Linked DNA regions of Homo sapiens: region 1 is linked to region 2. A link means that fine-mapping ties the variant in region 2 to the expression of a gene that starts in the linked region. Tissue or cell type: subcutaneous fat. Region 2 holds a variant in brackets; the other region holds the start of a gene. All regions are shown on one strand. Distances are from middle to middle.

Region 1 (2,670 bases), 22 kb after region 2:
ATCCAACGATGTGTTAACAGGGTGTTTTGTAATTTTCTTTTGAAGATTATTCTAGGTGGTGGGCGTCACAGGGTCAATAAAACTATACATTTCTCTCAAAGACTGCAATCCTGATGGCAAAGCTGGAGGAAGCTCCGGGAAACCTGTAATTGTGGGAATCCAAGACAAAAAATCCCCCACAGCTGGGCTGTGGGAAGGGGCCCTACCTAGGAGAAGAAATCAAATCCCCTACAGCTGGGCTGTGCGAAGGGGCACTACCTAGGAGAAGAAATCCCCTACAGCTGGGCTGTGGGAAGGAGCCCTACCTAGGAGAAATCCCCTACAGCTGACAGGTGGGCTGTGGGAAGGGGCCCTACCTAGGAGAAGAAATCAAATCCCCTACAGCTGGGCTGTGCGAAGGGGCACTACCTAGGAGAAGAAATCCCCCACAGCTGGGCTGTGGGAAGGAGCCCTACCTAGGAGAAATCCCCTACAGCTGACAGGTGGGCTGTGGGAAGGGGCCCTACCTAGGAGAAGAAATCAAATCCCTACAGCTGGGCTGTGCGAAGGGGCCCTACCTAGGAGAAGAAATCCCCTACAGCTGGGCTGTGGGAAGGGGCCCTACCTAGGACAAATCCTCTACAGCTGAGAGCTGGGCTGTGGGAAGGGGCCCTGGACAGACCGCTGGGCGCTGCTGCAGGAATCCCCAAACCCAGGCACTGGCTGCAGGGAAAAATCAAGCGGGTGACTGGCGGGGGGGGGGGGGGGGGGTGCAGCGTGGGGCTGGGGGACAGGGAGTGCGGGGGGCGGAGGCTGGGCAGGGGTAGTGCCAACGGACACCTCATGGTGTGGTAGCCTAAACTCAGAGCCTAAACGCAGGACCAGGGCTAGGAGCCCAGGACCAGAAGGCAAAACTTCCTACCTGATTTATGGATGGGAACTTGCAGCCCCTGGAGGGGAATGGCTTCGGTCTGGAGCTCTACGCACTAGTTCTCTGGGAGGACAGAGGGCAGGAAAGGGGTGCAGCCAAAATCAAACTCGGTTCCACTTGGACGAGCAGTGGGGAGATTCGCTGTCTAAACAACTAAGGAGAGTTTTTAAAACCACTTACCAGAATCTAGAGTGGGAATTAAAATCTGCGTGGGCTTCTTCAGATTCCACAGAAATGAGGACTGCCACACCTTCTCCAACTTTTGCAGGCTCCACCCAGGATGTGCGCCTCGCTCCACCCAGGATGTGCGCCTCTCTCCACCCCTAGGCGAAGGCACTAGAATTTCCCAAATTAAGAACGAAGAGGAAGTTTGGACCTTTTCGGCCACCGCTCGCTTCAATATGGCTGCCCCCAGGGAGAGACGAGGCTACCATGAAGGAGCCGAGCGCAGACCCTGAGTCCGTCACCCATGGATCGCAGCGCGGAGTTCAGGAAATGGAAGGCGCAATGTTTGAGCAAAGCGGACCTCAGCCGGAAGGGCAGTGTTGACGAGGATGTGGTAGAGCTTGTGCAGTTTCTGAACATGCGAGATCAGTTTTTCACCACCAGCTCCTGCGCTGGCCGCATCCTACTCCTTGACCGGGTGAGGCCCCTTTGCGCCTGTCCATCGCCTGCCTTCTAGTGCGAAACTTCAGGAGCCCTGTTCCCATCCAGTGACGACCGGATCCAGCATGTCTGTGTTTGCTCCTCTGAGGGGTGGTCTCTGTTTCTTTATATGTGAAATTTAGGGGATTAGATCAGTGCTTCTAAAAGTTTAACGTGGCTATTAATCAGCTGAGCATCTTTTAAAATACAGATCCCGATTCTTTAAGTGTAGGGTAGGGCCTGATACTGTGCATTTCTAACAAGTGCCCAAATGATGTTGAAACTGCTGACCTGGGAACTATCTTGTGTGGCAAAGTTTAGAAAATTTGATTTTATTATATGAATACTAAGGGAATCTAAAGACTTTGTAGCTTGCTAAGGTATTGAATGCCGGAATCCGCTCATCAACAGCTCTGGCAAATCATTGTTACTGCATGCTTGAACATCACCAGTGTTAAGGAGTTTACTGCCTCCTAGTGAGCCCCTCCATTATTACAACTCTAGTAGTTTTACGCAGAGAAAAGTACGATCGTATATAATTTAGGATGGTTAGACTTTTTTTTTTAACTTTATGATGGGTTTACAGGGGTAGTAAATGCATTTTGACTTACATTTTCCACTTATGACGGATTTATTGGGATGTAACCCCATCATAAATCAAGAAGCAGCTGTACAAGCCATACCTCCTTATTTGCAGGTTCAGTTACCCCAGTCAACAGCAGTCTGAAAATATTAAATGAAAATTCCAGAAATAAACAATTAGTAAGTTTTAAATTGCATGCTGTTCTGAGTAGCGTGATAAAATCTTGAGCCAACCAGCTCCTTCCAGAATGGAAGGTGAATCATCCCTTTGTCCAGAATATTCCACTATATATTCTTGCTGCCCTTTAGCTGCTTGGTAGCCTTCTGGGTTATCAGATCGACTGTGGTGGTATCACAGTGCTTGTGTTCAAGTAACTCTTATTTTACTTAATAATGGCCCCAAAGTACGGGAGTAATGATGCTGGCGATTTGGATCTGCCAACAGTAAGTTTTAAAGTGCTTTTTTGAAGTGAAAAGGTGAAAGTTCTTAAGGAAAGACTTAAGGAAAGAAAAAACAGCATATGCTGAGGTTG
Region 2 (2,500 bases):
GTTAAAAACATATTAAAAAACCACGCAAGTCTCCAAGGAACAAAGTTTGACTTTTGTAAAACAGTGGAAAATTTTACCTTAATTTTATCAATGTAATTCACTTCTCTGTGATTGAACACTTCATGGGCTCCATTTTGCAAAACAATCTTTTGTCCTTCCTCAGTACCAGCAGTGCCCAAAATCTTTAAGCCATAAGCTCTAGCAATTTGGCATGCTGCTAATCCAACCTGAAAAACAAATATAACCCAAGAGTTATATATTCTCTACACTCCTGTAAACACTTAAATACATACAATGAACTTAAGATTCCTATAGGACCCACCCTAACTTTAAGGAACTTAAGAGTGTAAATGAAGAAATAAGAAAAACAGCTAACTTTAATTGAGCATTTAAAATATTCCAGGAACCATACTAAATAATTTCTACATATTGTTTTATTCTATCCTCACAATGACCCTATAAAGTAGATACTATTATTGTCCCTATTGTACAGATAAGAAAGTTGAAGCTTCAAATTATAAGTAATTTGGCCAAGTCATATGCGGAGATGGAAACAGGAGTTAGACCAGTCTGACTGCAGAACTTGAGTTTTTAACCACTGCATCAAGATGTTTGCAGGGTTTAAAGATGATCAGAACATGCTCTCTGACTTCTTTGTGCATATGAAATTCTAAATAACAAATGTAAGGCCTCCACCATTTAAGTAGAAGAGATAGGTATATGGGCAAATTAACTAATTCATCCATATGGTGAATGTTTATAGAGTGTTTACGATGTGCTAGACATGGTACTTAATGTAAGAAATAAACTTATATTCTAAGGGTGGAGGAAGATAATAGTCATATGAATGAATAAAATAAATTCAGGAAATAAAAGTGCTAAGAAAAAATAAGACTGGCTGTTGGGTTAAAGAGACAGGAATAGGGGCTATTTAGGTCATCAGGAAGAGCCACTCTGAAAAAATGAGACCTGAAAAAAGTGAGGAACAAGCCACGAGAACATCCGGTCAGCCACGTGGAGGATGCTGTGGGCATAGTGAATGG[C/T]CATGGCTAACCTGGCGAGGTGGGAATGCAGTTGGGGTCAAAGAACAGAAAGAGGGGCAGTGTGTCTCAGGGAGGGGCGTGTACGAAAGGGTCGAAGATGAGGCCAGAAAGGCCAAGTCACACAGAATCTGAGGGGTGAGGGTAGAGGCTTCCGAGTATATTAAAACCTGTGCAGAACCACGGGAGAGCTTAAGCCAGGAAATGATCTGGTTGACTCAGGCTTTAAAAAGGTTGCTCCAATTACATGTGAGGCACAAAGAAAGCGGTGAGGAAAATGGGAGGAGGAAGATCAGTTTGTAGCTGTTAGAACAGTCTAGATAAGAGATGAAGCTGGCTTGAACAAAGGTGGTGGCACTGGAAAAAATAAACAAATTCAGATATAGTTTAGAGGTAAGCTAATGGGACTTCCTCACAGATTGAATGCGGGAGATGAGGAAAAGAGAAAAATACAGGCTGTCTCCTATGTCTTTGGCCAGATTAACTGGGTAGAGTGAGAAGACTGGAGAACACTAAGTTTGTGAAAATCTCCAGATTTCACTTTGCCAAGTGTGGTGGCGCATGCCTGTAATCCCAGCTATGTGGGAGGCTGAGGCAGGAGGATCGCTTGGGCCCAGGAATTTGAGGAGTTTGGGATTGCAGTGATCATGCCACTGCACTCCAGTCTGGGCAACGGAGCAAGACCCTGTCTCTAAAAAATAAAAATAAAAGAATCACTTGTAACATGCTGAGCTGCACAGTGCTCATCTACTTACGGGCGAAGATGTTCAGCAATCAGTTGAATATGAGTATGGACTCAAAAGGGTTCAACTGGAGATATATATTAGAGATTCATTATCTTACGGATGGTATTTAAAGCCAAAGGATTAGGTGGAACATGGTGGCTCATGCCTGTAATCCCAGCACTTTGGGAGGCTGAGGTGAGTGGATCACCTGGGGTCAGGAATTCGATACCAGCCTGGGCAACCTGGCAAAATCCCAGCCTCCCAAAATGCTGGGATTGTAAGAAATCACTAGAATACCAGATAAATGTGCTTAGTATAAAAGAGAAATCAAAGTAATTTAAGAATATAGACAAAAGAGCAATTACTTAAATAACAATACTAGGAAATATATCTGATTAGATGACAAATGATGGTACAAATAAGTGTCACATACATTTAGAGCAGAGTTTCCCAAACTTGGCACTATCAACATTTTGGGCCAGATAATTATTTGCTGTGGGAGACTATCCCATGTATTGAAGGATATCTACTCTCTAGATGCCAGAACCCCTTCCCCAAGTTGTGACAACCAAATATGTCTTCAGACATTGCCAAATGTCCCAGAGCGGAAGGAGAAATGATGCAAAATCACCCGCTACTCATAACCAGTGATTTACAGGGAGGACCGGGTTCGGCAAGAAAAGAATTAAGATGAAAAATAATGATAGAAACAGATTAAAGCTGTAACAGACTTCC

The links. PIP is the estimated chance that this variant, and not a neighbour inherited with it, causes the effect.
Region 1: it holds the start of CRYZ, and the variant in region 2 is fine-mapped to the expression of CRYZ in subcutaneous fat (GTEx, PIP above 0.99). The same link has a PIP of 0.9 or more in caudate, fibroblasts, lymphoblastoid cells, skeletal muscle and whole blood.

Annotation. Positions count from the first base shown.
Region 1 is chr1:74,731,866-74,734,535 of GRCh38, forward strand. CRYZ (crystallin zeta) reads right to left here and starts at 1,185. Exons shown (of 9, transcript NM_001889.4): 1 at 1,091-1,185. TYW3 (tRNA-yW synthesizing protein 3 homolog) reads left to right here and starts at 1,287. Exons shown (of 6, transcript NM_138467.3): 1 at 1,287-1,553. The coding sequence starts at 1,380. RefSeq lists enhancers at 1-271, 867-1,577, 1,132-1,421, 1,802-1,901.
Region 2 is chr1:74,710,021-74,712,520 of GRCh38, forward strand. CRYZ (crystallin zeta) reads right to left here. Exons shown (of 9, transcript NM_001889.4): 6 at 78-227. Among named protein-coding and RNA genes, the nearest start is that of CRYZ, 22 kb to the right of the region's middle. The variant C/T (reference allele first, on the strand shown) is at 1,044.